7 linked regions of the Homo sapiens genome follow. The protein of the gene in region 4 purifies or fractionates together with the protein of the main gene of each other region. This does not show direct contact. Each region holds a gene or a part of one and is shown on either strand. Other genes may lie near its edges.

Region 1 (3,238 bases), on a different chromosome or scaffold from region 4:
ACACATTATTAAAAGTGGTTTCTGGTTTTCGATACCATCCAAACAACATGAACAATTTTTAAACTGACTAACCTAAATCGTGGCGGTCAAACCAAAAAGGCTCTGGTAGATAAAGGACTCCATAGTTTATTTTTATGGCAAAAGTCTTATTCCACACAGTTTTAAGTGTGACATTAGAAATCAAAGTTTGAGGTTATAGCACAAACGAAGTGTGGACTTTTATATTTAGGGAAAAAAACCAACAAAACAGTTCTGCTCATTTACAAATGAGTCAATTAGACAAACAAAGCAGCAACTTCTGAAGCAGGACTGTCTATACAGCAAGGACCCTTAAGAAGCAATAAAGGTACATACAATGAATCTGTATACAGAAATTTTATTCAATTTTAAAAGAAAATGAGGACTTTAGACAAAGCTTTACCCTATAACAAAGCAAATCTGTCCAGCTTTAAACCAAATTCTGAGAGTAGCCAACTTCTATTTTCAGCAGCTGGCAAGAGCACCCTCAATGAGTTCTACTGACATTTCTATTTTCTTCATCCCATATGGTATAAAACAAAACCAATCTAGACTCCTTGATAAGCTTTATGTGGTCATTTGAGTTTTACAAATGGTTTCTCTAATGGTATGCCAAAATCATTTATGTGTTCTCTCCAGATAGCTTTACTGTAACATACAGCAATGTTTATCCTGGTGAGTGAGTCTTCTGTAAACAGTCAACCAATGCTCTATGTTATGGAAACCAAGCTATATGCAATTGAAACAATCCACAGGTTCTAACCTGGAAATACTAGGAAAACAATCTGGATGCATTAATCACAGCAATATGAAGATCTACCCTATAAAAAATGATGTGAATGGCTACCCTAATACAAGTTTTACTTTTCTTGAACCTATAGGCCTGTCATTTAAGTCAATGACAGCAGCTGTGGCTTCATCCCGAGACTCAAAGGCCACCATGGCTTCACCTGTGGGCATACCTTTTTCATTGTATTTTAAACACACTGAGCCTGGGATTACTTGATAGCCATAAAAGAAATCTAAAATCTCATCAATAGACACAGTAAAGGGCATGTTTTGCACTTTAATTACTGTCGGTCCTGGTTTTCCAGAACTAGATGCAAAGCCAGGGGGACCACCAATATGGATTGGGCCAGGGCCGGGGCCGGGGCCGGGGCCAGGCCCAAAAGCTGGTGGCCCACCCAAATGCCCAGGGGCACTTCCAAGACCAGGAGGGCCACTTCCAAACCCCGGGGGACCGCCTAAGCTACCAGGGCCATTTCCAAAATTCTGAGGGCCCCCTCCAAATCCCGATGGCCCACTTAAATTGTTTGGTCCACCTCCAAAACCCGGAACATCCAGTCCTAGACCAGGCAAACCACTGTTTCCAACTGAAGGCATACCAGGCCTAGCATCACCAAAGGCCCCGCCTCCTAATCCTGGAGGAGGGATTGGTGGCCCAAAGGCATTTGATCCACCAAAATTACCAGGAAAGTTAAATGGAGGCCCATTATTGGCTTCCTTTGATCCTACAGTCAGGAAGGCATGCTCTTCACCTCCTGCACTAGGTATTCCTGCACTGGGCATTCCCGCACCAGGCAGTCCTGCACTGGTTATTGCTGAACCAGGCAGTCCTGTGCTGGGCAGGCCTGCACCGGGAAGTCCTGCACTGGGCAGTCCCACACCGGGCAGTCCCGCATTGGGCATTCCTGGAACTGCAGGATTACCTGGCACAGGCATCTTTAATCCCTTTTTTCCTTGGGCAGGGGGATTTTTCTCAATCTCTCTCATATCTTCTAGGGTAACTACATGAACAAAAGCTTCTCTCCCATTAAGTTTTTTACGGTGTAAGCGTTCAGACTTACGTGCATCATCTTCATTTTTAAACTGAACCAATGCCTGTCCTAGACCTTGCCCATTGTTATCAACAAGAACATGTACAGCATTTTCATCCACTGGGATTCCTTCTAGGAACTGAAGAACATCCATCTTTGTAATGCTGAATGGAATATTTGTTATGTGGGCACAGACTTTGGCAGAGTTGACATCCCCCTCTGGATTTAGTATCATTTCCCTCTGGTCATAGCTGAAGTTCTGCAGTCTTTTTCGAATCATATCTATCTTTTCTAGCATACCTTTCTTAGTAATTGGATGAACTTGAATAAAGCGATTGCCCATGTACTGTTTATGACGACACAGAGCAGCCTTATAGTCAGCCTCATTTCTGAACTCTACAAAGCCTTCGCCAGTTGCTTTCCCATTGGGTCCATAAGCTATATAAATACTATCTTCCACAATATCCAGCTTTTTAAAAAAATCAATGACATGTTTGTTTTCTGCTTCAAATGGTAGCCCTTTCAAGTAAACACAAAAACCAGCCTCATGTGGTGATCTTGACCTTGATCTTTTCTGCCCACTGGGCGATTTTGACCTGGGAAGTGTCTGAGGAGGGGGATGAGTTTGTCCAGAAGGTCCCATATTTTGCTTAAAAGTGATATGGCCTCCAGCAGCTACCCACTGTCTTTCTGTGGCAGGGCTAACTTCCACATAGCGTTGAATCATCAGCATTCTGTTTCGTTTCAAAGCTTCAAATGTATCTTGAGGGGAGAGAAACTTAACCAATCCATTCCCATTATTTCGACCTACATGATCTTTCAACAAATGCACTGCATCAACACGGAGCCCATGAAAAAAATCTCTGACATCATTTTCCATTGCAGAAAAGGGCATTCCATGCACACTGACATACAGATCATCAGGGTTGATGGGGAGTGGCTTCACACTGCTCTGAGAGTTCATCTGGATAGGGTTAACAGGATTCAACGGACCAAGAAACATAGGATTCAGATTATTGTTCAAATTCATAGGTGCTCCAGAGCCATTCATTCCAGCAGGTAGAGGTGCCACAGGTGGCGGATTCAAGGGCGGCATGCCCGACATGGGTGGCAGTGGGGTCATGGGTGGCACAGAAGGAACTGGGGGAATCGGGGGCACAGGAGGCACAGGAGGCAATGTAGGTACTGGAGGAGGAACTGGAATTGGGGGAATGGATGGCATTGGTGGCAGAGATGGCATCGCTGGAATTGGAGGAATTGGTGGCGGCGGGACTGTGTTCATTGGAGAGGCTGTGCTTGGAACAGTTGAGCTAAACGTTGGGCTCCCAAAGGAAGCCCCCATATTTGGAGGAGCTGTTCCTACGCTGGCTGTGGAAAATGTCTGTATGTTTTTGTTGCTTTCA
Region 2 (3,500 bases), on a different chromosome or scaffold from region 4:
AAATTAATACACATGGTTTTAACAACATACGTTTGTCTATTATCCATTGTGGAAACAATAAGATAATGGCCTTTGAATAAACTATCCATCAACTGATTTCTCAGCAAGATATTTCTGGATTGTCATACGTTAAAAAATTTAAAAATCAGCCAGAACCCTAGAGTATGTAAGTGACTGCCAAAGGTTTATTTAATAAGTGAATGAATCATTCAAAAATAATGAAATTTTAGGTGAAAATAGCTGAAGTAAGGGGAGGGATCTAGCAATAACCCTTTCGTAAGGAACTGGCTTTATGGGTTGAGAGAACAGAGTGAAATAATTTGCATAAATGACTTTAAAAATTTAATTACTGTTTCTTCTTTGTTGCTTACACACACACACACACACACACACACACACACCACCCCAACATTTAGAAATTCTGGACTTCCTAGTTCATTCTGTGAATGAAATGGCTGGCATCGTTTGTCTTACTAGAATGCTATTAGGTCAACATCATGGTTTAACACTTACATTTAGACAACATTCACTGATCCCAGATCAACTAGGGCATCTTGCAGCCTCGACTCACTTGTTAAACATGCAATGTTCGCTACAACGAGCACTGTGAGAGAAAGAGAACTGCTCAGCCCACTCCCAACAGTACAGGGGACACATTCTCCTCAATGGCATGGCCAACTAGAGGTCAACCATAGCTCACAGTTCAGTCCAGACGTGCCCCAGGAAACTCAGGGTTTCTTCTTCAATGTGCTCATCTAGGAAAGCAGACTCATCCCTGAATGTAAAATGATTGCCTTCCTTGGGATCAAGAAAGTGGGGTAGTTATTTAAATAAGCTGTTTCTTAGTTTCATAGCCAACTTACAATTAATTCTAGATTGCACTGCCTAGGGCCCACACTACAGAATGACATGAGGTGGGGAGTGATTCCTAATAGTCCCCAGTGAACACAGTTGACAATCCTCCAAAGGCCGGTCTCTAATCCCAAGTGGGCAGGGGTTCTATTAGAGAAGATAAGAAGCAGCTTTATCCAATTACATTTATCATTAATTTGGACTATTCAAAAATATAAAGCATTTTGCTCTATAAATGTTGCTAAAAGTAACCCTTAAATACTATCATACCTAAAATGAATGGTGGAATATTAAACTTCTTTTCCCCAAAAAGATTGAATCAATAGAGGAATATTTTATTTGCTGGGGGTGGGGGAGGGTATCAGAAATAATATAACTGGATAGATTCAAAAATCCAACTGCTCTCTTGCCCTCATTATTTTCTATTTTTATTTACATTTATTTATTGATTTTTTTTTTTTTTTTTTGAGACAGAGTCTGGCTCTGTTGCCCAGGCTGGAGTGCAGTGGTACGATCTTGGCTCACTGCAACCTCCACCTCCTGGGTTCAAACAATTCTCCTGCCTCAGCCTCCCGAGTAGCTGGGATTACAGGCGTGTGCCATCACACTTGGCTAATTTTTGTATTCTTGGTAGAGATGGGGTTTCACCATGTTGGCCAGGCTGGTCTTGAACTCCTGACCTCACGTGATCCACCCGCATCAGCCTCCCAAGATGCTATGATAATAGGCATGAGCCACCATGCCTGAACTCATTTATATTTTACTTTATATATAATGCTCTTAACTCATTTTCATCTATGTATTTCTTGAGTGCTTTTGGCATCTTCAGGTTAGTTTTTTGTTTGTTGTTGTTTTCTTCAAGATTTCTTTTTTTTCTTTTATATTGTAGAGAATACAAAAATATACAAAGATGAAAAAAAAAAGCACTGAAGTTGTATTTAACCACTAAAGGAAGCACTGAATAATAATTAATTTTTATATGAAAAAGGGTTGGGGGTAATAACCAGAGGTAACTCTTTGTTATTTTGATACATGTCCTTCCAGCTTATAAGTACATGTACATCTCTCTCTCTCTCCCTCTCTCTCTCTGTGTCACACATACACATATACACACAATTGTTTGACAAAAAAATATTAACAGAACAAAATTTATAATACATGTAACACAAAAGTGTTTTCCTGAGAAAAGGTTTTTAAATTCATATTGAGTTATTACAACCATAAAAAATAACTGCAAGGGCATTCATTACAAAGACAGTGAATCCACTCCAAGTCACCCTGCAAAAATAAAATCATCGAGCAAACTCAAATTGCTGCTAAGACGGTGAATTTTAAAAAGCATGTCGTTTTGGGATTCCTACTCAATTATTCTTGATTCTATTCTTTAGATACTCCTCCATGATGCAAACTTAGCTGGATGTATTTAAGATCTGAAAACCATTAGAACTAATTAAGATGAATTTGGCTTTGTTCTTCAACTTCCTGTAAAAAATGCTCAACAGGAAAATTGATGCTCGCAGTAAACCACAGTCATCCTGTTTCTTTAACACAATCTTTTCACAGCTGCAGTTGCCTGGAGTTTCTATTTTATGACGCGAGTCACTGCAACAGCTCTACCATCCCTTCCCCCCAGCATGTGGTCTGGCCATTTTAGAAACTTTCAATACCTTTGCAGAAAGGTTCGTTTCTATTATTGCTACTCTTCCTCTCTCCAAGCTGAAGGTCCTTGCTCAGAGCAATAAGCCATGGATACAAGAGGGGAAACAGAAAAGGCAGCTGGACTCCAGAGGAAGCAAAAGGCAGAGAAGAGGAAAACAGCTTTATTAGCAAATCAGCAGCCTCACCCAGTTGGTTCTTATGCATTGTTAGTCTCCATTTGAGCTGAATGTGGAGCACACGCTTGCCATACACAGAATCCCTCATTTCTCAAAATGTACTGCTCTTTTCTCAGTCAATCATCATTGAAAAACAATACTTCAGCAACGTCTGATTAGGTTGTCTTCTTAATGGTAAATGTCAATTTAAGTCTGCTGAACCTAGAAATGCTTCTTTTATAGTTCTTTTAGATAAGGAGGTGATTTATTTTGGCGGGGAGTAGGAAAGGTGTTTTTCAAAGAAGACATTTTGAAGCATCTCGAACATCACTAAGACTGGCTAGGAGCTTGGACACAATTTTACTGCAAGAGTACTGCTAGGGAAATAAAGGTTGCTATGAAGTAAAATTATTTTTTAATCCACTATTGTGCACATTTAATTTTAAAATTAATACAAATTCACAGACATCGAAGACCCTTTTAATAGTGAGAAAATGAAGGTGAGCTGAATGACACGCCTACCTGTCATTATTTAACTGAAGGAAAGGGAAAGGAAACATTTTTATTTTATCCATATAATTAAAGAGTAGCAGGTTTTCTCCCATACTTCCCATCTCTTTAAGGGGTTCAAATCTCCAAGCTAAAATCTGCCTAAATCGCTATCACCACATTTAGTTCTACCAGAGGATTAAGATGTGCCACTGTTTCTCTCTCTCTCTTTCTCTCTCTCTCTCTCTCACACACACATACACACACAGCATATATGTCAGCACACTTGATATATACTGTATTCATTTTATCATTGAAAGTACAGCTTTATGATATAAGCAGAAG
Region 3 (4,056 bases), on a different chromosome or scaffold from region 4:
AATCCACTGCTTTTAATACTCAGTTAATCAACAGGACCTTCGGTGAGACTCATAAAACTAAACAGGTTCTCTTACTCCATGCTAGATCCACTGAATTGGGATGTGTAGGGCGGGGGCTTGGGAATCTTCTCTTTTTTTTTTAAAGCCCCCGAGTGATTCTGATGATAAGCCAAGTTTGGGAAATTGTAAAATAACATGCAGAAAGCACTGAGTACATTGCCTGCACAGGGTCCACATTCCATAAATATTAGGTTATCCCCTTTCTCTGTCAAAAACAAGGACACAGAGACCCTGAGATTTCAGAGTGGAAAGGAGAGAGGACCTGTGTAGGGAAAGGAGGTGGGGGGAGGGGCTGGGGGCAGCACTTGGACACAGCATAGGAAGCAGGTCCTTGGTCGGACTGTAGGGCAGGAGAAACAGCACCATATATAGAGAGTAGATGGTAGCTTGTCTTCCAGGTGCTGAAGGCACCTGGAGCTTGGCCACCTAGAGTGACAAGAGCCCATCATGGGCACAGGGCCGGATGACAGTGTGGAAGCATTCTGGGGACAGCATTGGGGGTTGGGAAGAATCACTGTGGGGGACATTGGAGTACTACCCTAGAGAGAGGTGAGACTGTAAAAGAAAAACTCTGCATGATGGTGGGGTGACAAAAGACTCTGGAAAGTTTGGGAAGTCCTGGGGTCCTCATCATGGGACTGATATGTGCCATTTCCTGCCTCTCAAGCTCTTCCCAGTTACGGGGGCGGCTCTCTAACCACAGGACAGGCACTACTGTCCCCATTAGAAAAATGGGAAGCAAGAGAGAGGGAGAAACTGAGGCACCATGTAAGTTGAGTGCTGTGTTCAAGGTCACCAGGAAGCTTGGGCAGTCTTTCCTATCTGCTCCTGGTGCTGCGGCTCTGCCTCCCCAGCTCTGTCCCTGTCCCCCCTGCCCCTCCAGCCCCCACCAGCAACTTGGGTTTCCAATCTTGCCTCCAGCTGCACTGGGCCTTGGTTATTTATAGAGTGTCAGATGCCCAGGGTTGTCTGTGCTAGCAGCTGCAGGTCAGCTCCCTCCCAAGTGCCAGGACTGGTGGAGAACCAAAACTGGAGGCTGGAGGTCACAGAAGCCCAACCCCTGGGGGGCTGGGAACATGAGCAGTCGACACAAACAGCTATGTCATCTCTGATGTTCAGACCATGCTTTATGCTAATCTAACCATAGGTTCATCTTAAAACAATCCTGGGTGGAAGGAAGATGGGGAAACTGAGGCAGAGAATGGGGAAACTACCACCACACCAAAGCCATATGGCCATTCTCCTACCTTAAGCTGGGGGTTGGGAATGGCAGGAAGTGAAGTCTGGTTGGGGTTGTGGGGTGGGCAGAGAAATCTCAGGGTAAATGACCTGCCAAGGTAGCTGCTTTGGCATTTGTGGCCCTGTCCCTCTGCCCTGTGGCCTGGCATGGTCTCCAGGCTGACAGCTTAATGAGGGTAAATGAGGAGCCATTAGAACCTGAGCTGGGGCCCCAGGGCACAGCAGGGCTGCTGAAGCCAGAGGTCAAGGCCAGGGAATTTCTAATGGCCCCTTAGGGTTGTAACTCAAGTGGGGTCTCATCTCTGGATCCCTCTCCCTCCTCCTGCAGGCTAGTACCTCACATCCACATCCCCCCATCCCCAAACGGCTGCAGTCTCCTCTCCAATTTCAGCTGGAGGATTAATTGAGGTAGATGGTAAATTCTTATACCTTCCACCCCCACAATGACTCATTGCTTGATCACTGTACATTCTAAAAGCTGGAACCAAACAGAATTACAGGGCTAAGTCCTCTGGGGGAAGTGGTAGGTGGTTTTGATTTATCCACTGTCTTGGATTACTTGTGTAAGTTTACCCTAGCCCTGGTTACTGAGATGAAACCATTTCTCTCCTGGCGCTGGGGACATAAGGGGATAAGGTGCCCCAATCCTCTTATTCCCATACCCGGGGGGCCCCTTCCCAGAGCCCTAACTCCTCCCATTGTCCCCCAAGTCCACACTCACATCAGTGGCCTTCTTCTCGGCCTGCTCCAGTTTCTCCTGGGCCTCCTTCACGGATTCAGAATACTTTTCCACCTCATCCTCTGTCCCCTTCAGCTTCTTCTGGAGGGCCTGCTGCTCCTCCTCCAGCTGGGACAGAGGGGACTTGGTCAGCCAGGCTGGGAGGGGGCCCAGGCCCAGAATGGAGACGCGGTGTGTGTAGGGGCGCTACTAAGATTTGGAGGCTACTGGGATGGAAGCGGAATAACATAAAAGGGACAGTACAGTCAAGGGTACTGGTGGGACCCGTTGAGGGTACAGAGAAAACTTCAGGCCCCAAGGAGCAGGACCAACCGCGCTCTGCAAAGGCAGAGTGGAAACCAGGGGCCTGGGGCTTCCCCAGGCTATTGTAGGGGAGAGAAGCGGCTCTGGCGAAGGCCCTGAGGGTACTGCGAAGGCCCAGCCCCCACCCTGGGTGAGAGAGAGCCTTGGCGGGCAGGCCCGGGGCTGGGGGACCCATGGCAGCGGCCCACCCTTGCCCTAGGCGCGGGGAGAGCAGGCTGCACTGGGCCCGGCCCTAACCTGCTTGCAGCGGTCCTCAGCTTGCTTCTTGTCGGCTTCGGCCTGCTCGGCGCGGTCGATGGCGTTCTCCTTGTCCAGCTTCAGCATCTGCATCTTCTTCTTGATGGCGTCCATGGCTGCGGTGGGGGGTGGGCCGGCCGGCAGGCGGTGAGGACCGGACGGACTGGGCTGGGTGAGCGGACTGGGTGCACCGGTGGCAGGCGAGGAGGACGGAGCGGGACTGGGACGTCCCGGCCACGCGGGCGCCTAAAAGGCGGGGAGGGACCGGGCGGGGCCGGCAACCAGGACCCTCCCCCACCTCGGCCCAAACCTTGTAGGGGCAGAAGCACGGCCCGGCCGGGGGGTGCGGCCGCCCCCTTCGCCCACCCACTGGGGACCGCCTCCCTTGGGGTCCCGCCCCCATCCCCCTCTTCCCTGCCAGCCGTCGGAGGAAAAAGTGGCCGACGGTCGGCTGGAAAAACCCCGGCGATGCGAAGGGGAGGGGACCCTTGGGCTGGGGGCTCCGTGCTTCCTCTGAGTGACAGCCGGACCCAGTGGCAGCTGCGGCTGGGGCCCCTGGGGCTATTTCGGGGCGTGAGCTCACGGCAGCTGCCCGGGCGCAGGGACCGGCGTGCCCCCCCTCAGCTGCAGCAGCCGCTACCCTTAATTTAGAAGTTTCCTGCAAATCCCCCCGGATTAAATGTCTCTCGGGAGGCGGAGCTCCTCGGCAGTTTGAGTGCCTCAGTTTACCCTGAGTCCCTCTAGGTTTGCGTTATCGACGTGGTGGTAGTAGCGGAGTCTCATCGGGAGCTTGGGGAAACTGAAGCAGGAAGCGAGCCCAGAGCCCCGGTCGCGGTGGGGAGTGTGGCCGGGCTTGCTGCCCCCAGGACCGGCCTGACCTCTCATCCCCTCGCCTCCCCTCCCAGCCCCTGCCCCTGGAGCCAGGCCCTTCCTGCGAGCACCCGGCGGCTCAGGACCCAGCTCCCCGCCCCGCCCCCCACGTGCCCCGCATATTTTCCACGCGGCTGCGGCCAGGCTGGTCACCGCGCGTTCCCCGCCCCCGCTCCCACCCGGACGCGTCCCGAGCCCCTCCGCTCCCCGCCCCTGGCTCCGCCTGGCCCCACTCCCCTCCGCGCGCCTTCCCTCTTCTCCCCCGCTCCCCGCGGACGCTCCTCTCTTTCCCAGTGGGCCAACTTTATGCTGAAATTTCTTTTCTGCCCTTTTTTGGGATGTTTCCCCATTGGGAGGCGGAGCCGGGCTGCGGCGGGGAAGGCGGAGGGCGAGGGGAAGAGTCACTGAGCTGCGGGGCATAGGGGGTCCGGGGCGAGGTGCCTTCTCCCACCCAGGCCGCCAAACCAGCGCCGGAGCCGGGTCGTGGGGTCTGGGAGTCGGAGGCGCGAGGCGCGAGGGTGTTTGTTTTCGTTTTTCCCTGGGGTGGGGTGGGGGGAAAGGAAGTGGAGAGCCGCCGGGAGGAGGGGGAAGGGGAGGAGAGAACAAGC
Region 4 (3,500 bases):
TGCATCTGGCCTCCTCAAACTATCTAAAAGCCCCACTTTGCCTAAATGAAACATTTACCTACCACACAAGAGAACTGCGTGGTTAGAGAATAAAATAAAAATACAAAAAAATTAAGGACAGTAAGAACAGACTAATGACCAACTAGCCTGAGATAGCTTTATTTTTAGGATAAGAACTTAACCACTTAACACTACTTTTAAGTATATTATGTGAAAATGTACATAAAAATTGATCACTTTATTTTTATTTATTTTGAGATGGGGTCTTGCTCTGTCAGCCAGGTTGGAGTGTACAGGCACCATCTCAGCTCACTGCAACCTCCGTCTCCTGGGTTCAAGCGATTCTCGTACCTCAGCCTCCCGAGTAGCTGGGATTCACAGGCATGTGCCATCACGCCTGGTTAACTTTTGTATTTTTATTAGAGATAGCGTTTCACCATCTTGGTCAGGCTGGTTTCAAACTCCTGACCTCAGGTGATCCACCCGCCTCGGCCTAAAAATTTATCATTTTCAACAGAAAATTTTGCAGTGCTTTTAGGAATTAACGTGTGAATCTGAATAGTTTCCAAATTAACACATCTACTTTTATTCATACTTTTTCAAAGTGGCTGACTAAATATTCTGAAACGTAAGTAGCATTACTGAAAAGCAAGGCTGGAATTAAATAATGCAATTCACCAGGAAAAAAATGGCAACATTTTATCTAGTACCTATCTCCTCCCTTCTCAGAATTTTTTGAAAGTATTTTAAGTAGCTACCTGAATTCCTACTTTTCTAGTAATTAGCATATTTTAAATATTCTGAGTAATTATTTATACAGGTTTTTTAGAAACATACCAGAAGTTTTAATACCGATTTCAACAAACGCTCGATTGTTTTAATGTAAAATTTCACCATACACATTATGTATATAGAATGGCTTACCTCCAGTAACTACCAGACACATAACAAGTATTGAAAAATATACACAAGATCCAAGCACCACTAACTCAATTATACTACCAATGGTCTTAAACTACAGTGGATATAAATTTCCAAACTCCAAAAACAAAAAACAAAACAAAAAAAAGTGTTCAACTATAAATTTCAAAAGAAAACAAAGACCATTCCTAAACTGGGGATTTTACTACTTACATAACTTTGCACAATGCAAATAAATTTTTAAAAAACTGTTATGAAGATTTACCTTCATTTATTTTAGATATGTCCACATTAGAATTATTAAGCTGCAGCGTGGCTTGCAAAGCAGGAAGCAATTGTCTAAGAAGATTTGGGTCCTGAAGTAAGGGAGGTATTGGCGACTGTGGAACAGGAGAAACAGGGACCGCTGAAGCAGATGTTGGAGGTGCAGATGTGGGGTTCAGTCCAGAGGCAGAAGACGTGGAAGGAGTTGTGCAAGAATGTGATACGGGTTTGTCTCCTGATGTAGATTCTAAATAAAAAGATAATCAGCCTGAAAAATTACCTGAATAGAGAAAATTGGAACAAACATCAAAGGAACACCTCTCATGTGCCAGGCACCTAACGTAAGTAATCTCATTTAACCCTTACACACTGGAGCACACAGAAGATGCTCAGTAAACATTCACATGACTAGAATAATGATTTAGACATTTCTCACCCTATTTCATAGGTAAGAAAGCTGAACAAGAAAGGTTAGATAACCTGAAGCCATAAAACCTGGTAAATCATACCCATATCTGATTTGAAAAGTACCAATCTGTCTACCACCAATGCTATCTCAAAGATAATTATTTATTAACCACACATTCAAATAAGCTTCCATTAGGATAAAAGGACAATATAATTCTACAGGATTTAATTTATATCTCATGAAATAAGGTGAAAAATGTTTATGGCCACAGTAACAACCTACCTCAATAAGACACTGGTCTTAATACAAATCAGGGTAGGTACACCAAGGTGGTTACACCCAAAATGGGCTAAAGATGTGATGAGAAGAGACTTTTATACTTAATAACTGAGTTTTGTAACTACATACTTCCCTTTTGTAATTCAATATATAAGGCAATGAGCTATTTGTTTCATTTTAAGATTATTAAAAAGGACACTTTAATATTAAAAACAACCCACCTCATAGTATTTAGAAATAAAGGATGTATAAAATACGCATGGAAAATTATTTGAAAGCTGTTGTTTCAATTATTTATATAGATTTAATGTAACTGTAATCAAAGCCCCAAGAGCACTGTTAATACTATTTGACAAGCTAGTAACATAAATCCTGAAGATTCCATAACCTGAAGAAAAAGAACACTGCCAGCAGGACATGCCCTGCCAAATATAAAAACTTACATTTAAAACAAAGCCAGTTAAAGGTAGACTGAACTTTTGTGTAGGTATTTAAGTCTTTAAAACTCTTAGAGGAAAACACAGAAAGGTATCCATAACACCAAGCAGATGTGTAAAGTTACAAAAAGCAGAACAATTATATTCAAAGTAGTGGTAATCAGACTATTTAAAGAATTTCTATACGTCAAAATAGACAAACTGCCCAATAGAAAAATGTACAGAAGACATTATTTCAAAGAAGGAACTTGAATGCCTAGGAAATTCAAGAAAAGATGCTCAACTTCATTCAGAATCAGGACAATGTAAAATAAAGCAACATAACCCTTTACACTCACCATAATGCAAAAATTTTAAAGTCAGACATACCAAATGTTGGCAAAGAGTAATGAGAACATTTACTCAACATTTCTGATGGATAATAAATTGATATAACCACACTGGAAAGTAATTTGGCATTATTTAGAAAAGTTGAAGATACGAACACTACATGACCCAGTAATTCCCCTTTAGGTACACACCCTCAGTGAAACTCAGATATATGTAAATCAGGAGAAAATTCAAAGACTATCACAACAGCACTCTGTTTGCTTTTAGTATAAAACTAGAAACAACCTATTTCTTTAAGATTTTCAAGATCATATATACAGTACTAGCAAGCTTATTGAAAACAGACTCCCCTATGAGTCTTTTTACACTACTATAATGGTCGAAAGAACTAGGGATAATAGCTCTCTAAAGTGTGGATCTCACAGCTGATTTAAGTACATTTCAAAAATGTGTTGATTAACCATGATGAACTCAGAAGGACTAAGATATTTTTATTTGCGTAAGGGTATACACTTTTAAAGGAAGGTGCTTGAATCCAGCAGACTGCCTATTATTTTCAGCTTTACTGTTCTGGATTCATAGACAAGCATAAAGAAACTCAAATAAAACGATAAATGTTTTCCTTGCGAAAATTCTGCTGTCAGATGGACGTGGTGGCTCACGCCTATAATCCCAGCATTTTGCAAGGCTTGAGCCCAGGATTTCCAAGACCGGCCTGGGCAACACGGCAAAACCCCGTCTCTACTAAAAATACAAAAAATTAGCCAGCTGTGGTGGCTTGCGCCTGTGGTCCCAGCTACTCAGGAAGCTGAGGTGGGAGAACCACCTGAGCCACGAAGTCGTGGCTGCATTAAGCCGTG
Region 5 (3,500 bases), on a different chromosome or scaffold from region 4:
AATAAGTTTCTTGTATACACATGCCTGTGGTTGGATGCAACATCAATAACTGAGAAAATATTTTATGTACCTTAAGTAAGAATCAAAGCAAATATAGGAGCTTTAAAATTTATCTTAAATTTTAAATTATTTCAGAATAAAGATAAAGGATTCAAGGCAATTTTACAACAGTGATTTTCATATTCTGCTGTAAATTTTTTAACTAAAGGAAAAATACATATTTATACTCAACAGTGGTAAGGCTTTATTATTTATACTAGAAATTTGACAGTATATGGCTATGCAATTATTTTCACTATCAGTGGGAAAAAACAAAGGAGAGATGGAAAACAGACTGCCTTTAAAGACTATTTCTACAACACCTTTAAAACAGGGCAAAAGAAGTTAAGGAATGCTCTGTTCCTCTTTGACTACCAAAAAGTACTATATATAAAAAAGATATAAACAAATCACATAAATATTCACATCTATTTCAAGCAGTCATTGGGCAATCAAATCAGTTCCTTGATTTTATGAATATAAATCATAAGGTTAGTAAAGAAATAATTTGAGTTAATTCACTTTAAAGGATCTCATTAATGTTTACATGCACATGTAATAGATTTATATTAAATGTTTTAACAGTTAAAGCTAAACTTGAAACTGGAATCTCTTACTAAGAACCAGTACTTAAGTGCTCTAAATTATAATGATGTACATGTAAATCCTATGTGCCCTGGTTTCCTTTATATAATAAAACACTTTAGTATGAACTTGTTTCTATCCTAAACAGCACCCAACAGAATGAATGTTTTACACACAGCGAATTCTCAATTAATTATGTAAAAGTCTTGTATATAAACATATAAATAAGCATTCTGTAAAATACATTGCTTTTCTTATCTTTGACTCGCATTATGAACTATGTTTTTCCTCCCGACAAAAAAAATGCACAAATACGAAAGAAGTTATCAGATGGAAAATCATACACAAAATAGCAAAATTATAATAAATATTCTTTATTCTAAGTCTAGCAATGACATTACTTTTTCCCATTTTAGACAAATTTCTCTGACCATTTTTCTCAAAATGATTTCTTGAATAAAAATTCTGAGTCAGCTAATAAATTTCAAAGATAAATTTTAAAATGTATCAAAAGTATAGTATTAAAGCAAAACATTAAAAGTATCGAAATAGTTTCACCAGGTATGTATCTACGTGTATATATACAAGTAAACACACATATACAATAAACACTAATCTTCCCACATTAACGGAAGTGACAAATGACAATCTAAATACAAATAAAACAGTATTCAGAATCACAAATAAACTAAAATGTACAATGTTTACGTGAAAAAGAAGTTGGCTAATGTTGAGGGTTTGAATTTTAAATTCTCCTAAACAAAATCTACCCATACACTACCCCCAAAAAAATCATTCAACTAAAAAAAAAAAAAAAAAATTCCAATTGCTAATGTTCAGTTTTTATAGTGTTGCTATGCTATAGCCAAAACAATCAGTGTAACCAATTTTGGATCTAGGTAAATTATTTCTTTACCAATCAAGTTAAAACTGTTTTTGTGACAAACTTTATGTATATTACATCTTTAAATACCATAAAATAATCATCATGAGGGAACCAAAAGAAAAATAAAAGGTCTTTATTAAGCAAGTTTAATCTAGCCAAGCCTTTATTAAAGGCAAAACGATGTTCGAAATATGGAGCATATTCATCCACATATAAATACATATTTTCATTAACATACTGTGCTAAGGGATTTGGCAAATGCATTTTAACCTATAGAATTTGTACAAAATTTGAATTCAGAACATCTTAAACAGCTAAAATTATACCCTATTTGAATTTTACTATTTTAAGAGTTAAAAATAGCCTCACTAAAAAGAAATTCAGACACCATGGAATTCTGCTGTCTTAAGCAGCAATTTAATACATAATTAGGGGGGAAAAAGTAAGCCATACACATACTACAAAAAGATCTACTGTCAAAACAAATAAATAATGAACAAATAAGTTAATTTGAAAGCAAACATTTTATTAATCTTGAAAATAACAAAAAGATCCTGTCGATCTTCAATTACTGGTAAGACTACCACCAATATAGAAAATCTGACCAAATATATGGTTGTATTTCAGATTTTTATACTAGATAAATTACAAAAGCCATCTTCTAATAGTACATGAACAATACAAAGTTCTCAGTTTACCTTCTATAATTGCTGCTATAACCTTTACCACGAGGTGAAGGGCCATGTACGAATCTACATGTGTTTCCATAGAGGCAGTTGCCAGTCTTCAGCCAGTTACGGCACTGTGTCTAAGAGACAGATATTACTATGTAAATTTCATATTTATTTCTGGAAAAAAAAAATGCTAGCGGGACAAAATTAAAACAAATGCTACCAAAATTCCAGCTAACCTGTGATATATTACTCCCCAAATAATAAAAACTTCAGGAAAAAAATATGGAAAAACCCATAAACCTTATCACCCTTTTCACTTCTTTTTATAAAACACACTTTAAAAAATTTACTGAACAAACATTCCTACAATAAAACAACCTGTTCACCTTTATGATACAAATAAGCATTTCAATAATAGAATTCTAAGAGAACCCCTGTGACTATACTAGTGACAACTCACCTCTGCTGTACTGCCAGTGCTGGGTCCAAGCCTCTCAAATACACTGGGTCTTCGGGATGTGCTATCAGATATAGTCTTGGTATTTTCCACTGTGACCTTCCTTCTAATTTTTGACATTTTGTACTACTTCAACCAAAAAAGAAAGAGGCAAAACTGTAAAATTCCTCAGTTTTAAATAACTGAGCCCACAGCTTACAAGTAGATAAAACTATAGGTAACAGTGTAAAATTACAGGAGATTTTCCTTGGGAGATTAAAAAAAAAAAGCATAGGAGAGGTCACAGGTAAACAGAGATAATATCTTCTAAAACATGCCTTACTGGTGAATTTATAACAGCTGTGAGATCTGTTGGCTAGAATTGTACCTCTTCTGCAGAGTGAACGAATATGATCCTACTCACACAGTGAAGTTTTCATAGTACAATCAACCTCAGAAGATACAGTACAAAATGTTTACTTTATAAAAGTTACTTACAAAAATTGCTTCAAAATTTAGTAACTCAAAGTTGTTAACCATCAACTGGTTAACTGAAAAAGAGTTATGCTAAAGAAAATGGAAAAATAAAATTGGGTGAAAATTTTCATAGCAGAAATTATGTTTCATAAGTTTAAGGGACAACAGCAGTTATGTTCCAAAAATCAGGTTGAGAAAAATGAATGATATTTTAGTATTTTCTTTGCCTGACAGAAGTCAAAACAATCTGATCAAGCATATTTATTTTCCAGTAACACAAAAACAAAACAAAACAAAACTCAATGTTGATAGAAACAACTTTCAAAACAGGACAGACTGTAGAACTAGAAAAAGTCGAGGTGTTTCTATAATCTATACTACACTGACATAAAATTCAAAGGTG
Region 6 (3,500 bases), on a different chromosome or scaffold from region 4:
AAAAAGACTTTATGCGAATTCTCCTTAGAACTAACAAATTGCTTGTTTGATTTTTGCATTCTTCAGCCTGGTATTTGGTACCTTTAGATAGTGTATGCAAGACGCATTTTTCTGAAGTTTTCAGTGCTGGCAGCAGGATGCCTGTGGCACTATCATCCTGAGATTGTGCACTTGCAAACACAAGTGTGTTTTGAGCAGGCCAAAAAGTGTCCCACATTCTTCAGTCTCCTCTTTGAAACCCAGTGTCCCAGGATACACATTTTTTGTTTTTAAGTTATCATAATTTTTATTGACTCTTGCAGAAATTTTTCTGTTCCTTTGTGTCCTACTCAGTACTGTATGTGAAGTTCAAGGTTGAGTTTGGTCTGTAATGTTAAAAACATAACATTGAACATTGTTATCTGAGCAAGTCTTTATGGACTTTTGATCCTAACAGTATACTGATCTTACATTTCTGAATTTAGTATCTAATTATAAAAGATTTGTGCATATAATTGTTCTTTGAAATTCCTCTTACCAAAAAAGGGCACCCCTCAGGCATAGTTCAGTAAACCTAAAACAGCATATCTTCAAATCTTAATGTAGTCTATTTTTTATTACAGAGCCCAAATTCCGTTGAACTAAGGTACCATAATTACTTAATCAGCTCCTATTTTAGGTTATTTCAGTTCTTCCTCTTTAAAAAAATATATATTTATATGAAATATTTTATTTTTATATTTATATTAAAATATGAAGTATTATATTCTAAATGATTTTCTTAATTTCTAGTTTAGAAGTGAAATTACTTTATCAGAAAACATAATTATGGCTTTCAGAGGATTTGTAAGTGCTTTATCAGTGTAAGTGTGTATCACTTTCATAGAAACTTAAGGTTGAATAGTTACATTCTAGGTTATAAAGTAAACTTAATTTAGAATAAAATTAGTTTACACCTTTTCATGATATAGTCTTGAGGAAGGGGGCAACATGGTGTACTGGAAAATCCTAATGCCCTGAAGTGTCCATTGCATGTAACGAGTTAGCTTCCCTCCTATACATCTGAAAGGGTTCTATTTAGGGACTATCCTTGGTAAAATTGAGACAATAGTCACTCAAATCTTTTTCATATCCTCAGTATAGCATTAAAACTGCGTGGCCACTTGTGCAAATCACTTACAATCTTAAACTCACTTTAGAAAGGAGATACTATAATCTGCCTTCCAGGGTGGTAATACTGCTTTCAAGTTTGTCTCAATCCTTATCTAGATAAGTGCTTAACTGCTTTATACAAGTCAGCCATTACTAATGCTACTACTTCATTGCTTAAGTGTTCACTTTATTGGGAAACAGTGTAATAGGGGGAGTAAGAATGCTAGATTTGAAGTCACAAATTGCCTGGATTTGGAATTTCAGCTCTGCCATTTAGCTGTGTGGTATTGGGCAAATTAACCCCTTTAGTGTCGGGTTTCTCAAGTAAAAAATGAAGTTATCATAGTAATAACAAATGAGGCTATATTTAAAAGTGATTAACACATTTCCTAACACATTTTAAGCATCAATAAATGTTTTCAGTAATTATTGTTATGTGATTATTGTATTAGTTATTTATTACTACATAAGAAATTACTTCAGAAACTAGTGGCTTAAAATAACAATACATGTTTATTATTTCCTTGTTTCTGTGAATCAGGAATTTAGGAGCAGCTTAGCTGGGTGGTTGCGGTCAAGCTGTCAGCAGGGGCTATGATCATCTACATATTATTTTGAACCTAATGGTTATAAATTTTATATTTTGCAGACTATGTCTTCAGCAGTGGTGCAGTTATATGCAGCAGATCGGAACTGTATGTGGTCAAAGAAGTGCAGTGGTGTTGCTTGTCTTGTTAAGGACAATCCACAGAGATCTTATTTTTTAAGAATATTTGACATTAAGGTGAGTTTTGTTTTGCTTTCACTTTAAACTAGGTGATTAGGTTTTCTATATCAATTATAATTTAGTTTAGATTTGTTTATCCTATATGTGATATTTAAATTTATACATAAACTAATATTAGAAGAGTGAAGCTTGGTTTTTAGATATTGCATACGGAAATCATGACCAAATGGGAACATGTCTGAAGCCAGAATGTGAATAGTTTCCTATTTTATCTTTCTCCTGCTACCACGCATTAAGGCTTTTTTTTTTTTTAAATTATGCCTGTTGGTTCTTGGGCTTTCTTTACACTCTGTATTTTTTTAATGAAACTCTTTTATTCCACCTGGTTCATTATAGAATAGCGTAGATAGTCTGTTCAGGTAACAACAAAATAATATTTTAGCTCAGTATGTACTGTTATTTAGCCCAGGTTTAAAACATTTCAATATCTATAAAAATCTGTTTGCTACTCATTTTTCCTTATATTGTTTCTCATGATAGATATATTCAGATTTTCATAGCTTTATATCCCTCCCTTCCAATCATAAATCACATTGTTATAGATTGAATACCTTGTTAGGTATTCATTTCTTACAGTTGTCATAAAAATATTTTGCTAAGATGAAGTCTCCATTATTTTTTTAAAAAACCTTTCTGTAAGTAAGCCTCCATGATTAATATTTATATGTGGCAATAAGTGCAATGAGATTTTAATTACAAAAAACTAAAACTGCCTTTAAACTCTTGGGCGCTAATATGACCTGATAGATAACAGTGAAGAGATTTTTACACCTCTGGTCTCAGCTTTATTTGTAAAATCAGATAACCATCTTGGTTTGTTATGAGGTATTTCACTGAGATTAAATGAGATCTCAGTTATGGTATTTGGTAAATTAGTGCTTCTTTTGTTGTTGTTGTTGTTGTTTTGAGACAGGGTCTTGCTCTTGCTCTGTCACCCAGCCTGGAGTGCACAGCTTACTGCAACCTTGATCTCCTTGGCCCAAGCAATCTTCCCACCTCAGCCTTCTGAGTAGCTGTGACTACAGGTGCATGCCACCACACCTGGCTAATTTTTGTATTTTCTTATAGAGATGGGTTCTGCTGTTTTGCCCAGCCTGGATTCAAACTCCTGGACTCAAGTGATCCTCCTGCCTCAGGCTCCCAAAGTGCTGGGATTACAGGCCTGAGCCACCAGTCCCGGGCTAAATTAGTGCATCTTAATGTCTGCTTCCAAGACAGCTGAGAGATATGACATGCTTCTGTCACTAGCAGTGGCTTACTAGTAATCACTAGCAGTGGCTAACTATGGCAGTGATTCTGGGGGGTGGGGAACACATACGTAGTTTGAAAGAAACCCCCAAGTGCTTTGACATATTTCTCATAACCATTGAGAAGCACTATTTAGAAATGGCATACACTTACTACTCCACTAAGAAGAAAGGGATTCCATTGCAGTGGTTATAATGTGTGAACAGTGTATTTTACATATTTTTAAATTGTGGTCTAGGTAGAACCTTGCATTTCTGAATAGGGCAATGACTATCTTTCTCTAACCACTTATTTCCAATTGCTGGACACTCATAATTCGTCACCTTTGGTATTA
Region 7 (2,374 bases), on a different chromosome or scaffold from region 4:
CTAGTTCTCTCTGGGCAGCCGACGCAGCCTTTACCAGTGCACTGGTGGCTGCTGCAATGGACTTGGCAGCTTCTAGTATCTGCTCCTCAAAGTTCAAGGACTCATCTGCCTCCTGCAATAAGCGAAGGTTGCAGAAAGAGATGTAAAGTCAGAGATGAAGGTGGGGACACTGCCATGGTGAGGGTGGAAGAGGAAGGGAGCAGGACTGACCTTGGGTTTGGCCCGGGGCTTCAGCTGCTCTAGCTTTTTGGCTGCAGCCTCAATGGCGGCTGCAGCTCCCAGGAGCTCATTCTCAGCAATGACTGTGGGGTCCTCTGGGTCTACCCATTCTGTTCCTGGTGGGATGAAGGAAGAGGAAAGAGGCTAAGGCAGAGTGGGGAGGTCAAAAGCACCAGGGAGCATGGTTAGTATCATCAGGCCCTGGCATCTGTGGGGACTATGGTCAGAGGCTAGCACAGAGCTGTCCAGCCAGGAAGCAGAGATCACACCATGATAAGGGTTTTCCATCCGTCCCTGTCCCTGGTCACCCCTCACCCTTCATGGCTTCAGCAGCCTGGATGAGCTCAGTGACGGAACCAGCCACACGCTTTGAATGTCCTGTCAACTGCTGCTTCAGTTCTGGGCTTGGCTTCTGCAGGGTCTGGGCAAGAAGCGGGCAGGGGACAAAGAGCATCACATCTTAGGGTCTACCCTGATCTATGAAATAGGGCAGACCATGGCCCCCTCACCCCTATCCCTAGAGCACTCCACACCATAGCCCTCAAACTCCACGCTGCCTATCCAAGTACACATCATGCATCACACCTCACACGTGATAGAGACAGTGGGGCTGTGTCACTCACCGGCTGACAAGGAGCAAGGAGAATGATGAGATGAAAGAGGAGACGACGAAAGTAGAGAAGGGGGTGGTCAGGTGGGAAGGGAGGAGAAAAGAAAAAGAGGAAGAGGAAGAGGTGACTGGGAGAACCAAAGATGATAAGAAGGATGGGGCCTGGGAGAAAGGGAGACTTGGAAAGGAGAACAGATTTGGGAAGTAGAGGGTGGGGTAGGGAGGAGATCTGAGCAAAACAGACAGCAGGGTGCGAGGCCTGCAGGAAGAGGGCTGTGTATTCAGGGAGGCTGGTATGAGGAACAAGCAACGCCCTCCCTTACCAGCAGTACATGGTCCAGCAGTTCCAGGTAGCCATTGGCACACTCCCGGCCATAGTGCAGGGCTCGAAGCCGCACATCAGGGGCCACTTCTGGGTGGTAAGCTGCTTCCTGTCCCCAGAGTAATATGTTAGCTTTAGGCCCCGCAGATCCCTACAGTTTCTCTCCCACTATGTTCTGGCCCAAAGCTGCCTCACGGAAATGCCTCAAGGATTTCTACCTTGCAAGCCCGAAGCATATCTGCAATAGCACGGCGGCTCAGATTGGCTGTGGCAATGACATCTTCCTGGCGACAGGAATTGCCAGCAGCAACGGCCTTGGCGGTTGCCATGGTGATACCCTTGGTCATTCGGATGAAGTCTTCTGGGGTAGAGGTCTTGGCAGGTGGCTCTGGGGAACAGAAAACCTGTGGGGGCAGAAGAAGAAGAAAGATTTTACAGTGGCTGAGACTATGAGACAGCGTAGAACTCTGTGTGCATGTGATTTGGTGCAGACATTCACACATCACAGTGAATGTAACAAGGCAGTTGGTTATTGTTTCTGACTGAAGCAACTGGGGAGTTTGTTTGTTTGTTTGAAATCACAAAAGTAATTACAAAAGTGGCTTTTGGCTGGGTTTTCATTCCCAAAATAGAGAGAAGCCTTGAAGGGGTGAGAGGCAGAGCTAGGCCATAAAAGATATACAGATGATAGGAGGGCATTTTAGGTAAATGGTAGGACATGAACAACCAAGATGTCACATCGGAAAGTATCAAGGAATGTTCTGGAATATAGGAATGGTGAAGAAAAGGTTATTGGGGACTTGAATATCACACCGAGGAACTTGGACTTTTACATAATATGTGAAAGTCATAAAATATTTTGATGTACGGGTTCAATCTGCAAACATTTATTAAAGATCAGCTAGGTGGCAGATTCTATGCAAGGGGCTAGGGATGCTCCCTGTTCTCATGGAGCTTACATTCTGGTTTTGGACACAGGTAATAAATAAATAAACAAGCAGCAAAACTGAGGACTGTGATTTGGATTATGAGAGAATAGAGACAGTGCTGTGATGAGAACTACTTCAAATAGGTGGTCAGGGAAGGGCTCTCTGAGGAGGTGACATTGAGGCTGAAGCCTGATGAACTGGAAGGAGCACAGTGTTCAAAAAGCTGGAGAGAACTGAGTGGAAGAGCCTGCAGCAGATAAGAGCTTGGCATGTTCTCAGAACTGATGGTGCAGG

Evidence for each region.
Region 1: the proteins of WAC (region 4) and RBM12 purify together in Homo sapiens (affinity purification with mass spectrometry; 2 studies listed by BioGRID and IntAct, with this or other methods). This does not show direct contact.
Region 2: the proteins of WAC (region 4) and WIPF1 purify together in Homo sapiens (affinity purification with mass spectrometry, with the first as the bait; one large-scale study listed by BioGRID). This does not show direct contact.
Region 3: the proteins of WAC (region 4) and TPM2 purify together in Homo sapiens (affinity purification with mass spectrometry; one large-scale study listed by BioGRID and IntAct). This does not show direct contact.
Region 5: the proteins of WAC (region 4) and ZC3H13 purify together in Homo sapiens (affinity purification with mass spectrometry, with the first as the bait; one large-scale study listed by BioGRID). This does not show direct contact.
Region 6: the proteins of WAC (region 4) and WASL purify together in Homo sapiens (affinity purification with mass spectrometry, with the first as the bait; one large-scale study listed by BioGRID). This does not show direct contact.
Region 7: the proteins of WAC (region 4) and TLN1 fractionate together in Homo sapiens (co-fractionation; one large-scale study listed by BioGRID). This does not show direct contact.

What each region holds. Positions count from the first base shown.
Region 1 is NC_000020.11:35,651,663-35,654,900, forward strand, and holds part of RBM12 (RNA-binding protein 12), read right to left. Parts: coding exon 862-3,238; 3' UTR 1-861. Other genes in the region: CPNE1 (copine-1), read right to left, coding at 1,866-1,880.
Region 2 is NC_000002.12:174,591,305-174,594,804, forward strand, and holds part of WIPF1 (WAS/WASL-interacting protein family member 1), read right to left. Parts: intron 1-3,500. UniProt on the Homo sapiens protein: Plays a role in the reorganization of the actin cytoskeleton. Contributes with NCK1 and GRB2 in the recruitment and activation of WASL.
Region 3 is NC_000009.12:35,687,126-35,691,181, forward strand, and holds the start of TPM2 (tropomyosin beta chain), read right to left. Parts: upstream 2,801-4,056; 5' UTR 2,693-2,800; coding exon 2,579-2,692; intron 2,147-2,578; coding exon 2,021-2,146; intron 1-2,020. UniProt on the Homo sapiens protein: Binds to actin filaments in muscle and non-muscle cells. Plays a central role, in association with the troponin complex, in the calcium dependent regulation of vertebrate striated muscle contraction.
Region 4 is NC_000010.11:28,606,118-28,609,617, reverse strand, and holds part of WAC (WW domain-containing adapter protein with coiled-coil), read right to left. Parts: intron 1,433-3,500; coding exon 1,187-1,432; exon of another isoform or gene 1,176-1,186; intron 1-1,175.
Region 5 is NC_000013.11:46,042,747-46,046,246, forward strand, and holds part of ZC3H13 (zinc finger CCCH domain-containing protein 13), read right to left. Parts: intron 2,771-3,500; 5' UTR 2,762-2,770; coding exon 2,645-2,761; intron 2,319-2,644; coding exon 2,209-2,318; intron 1-2,208. UniProt on the Homo sapiens protein: Associated component of the WMM complex, a complex that mediates N6-methyladenosine (m6A) methylation of RNAs, a modification that plays a role in the efficiency of mRNA splicing and RNA processing.
Region 6 is NC_000007.14:123,707,504-123,711,003, reverse strand, and holds part of WASL (actin nucleation-promoting factor WASL), read left to right. Parts: intron 1-1,780; coding exon 1,781-1,915; intron 1,916-3,500. UniProt on the Homo sapiens protein: Regulates actin polymerization by stimulating the actin-nucleating activity of the Arp2/3 complex. Involved in various processes, such as mitosis and cytokinesis, via its role in the regulation of actin polymerization.
Region 7 is NC_000009.12:35,698,822-35,701,195, forward strand, and holds part of TLN1 (talin-1), read right to left. Parts: intron 1,556-2,374; coding exon 1,370-1,555; intron 1,261-1,369; coding exon 1,153-1,260; intron 641-1,152; coding exon 535-640; intron 336-534; coding exon 211-335; intron 113-210; coding exon 1-112. UniProt on the Homo sapiens protein: High molecular weight cytoskeletal protein concentrated at regions of cell-matrix and cell-cell contacts. Involved in connections of major cytoskeletal structures to the plasma membrane.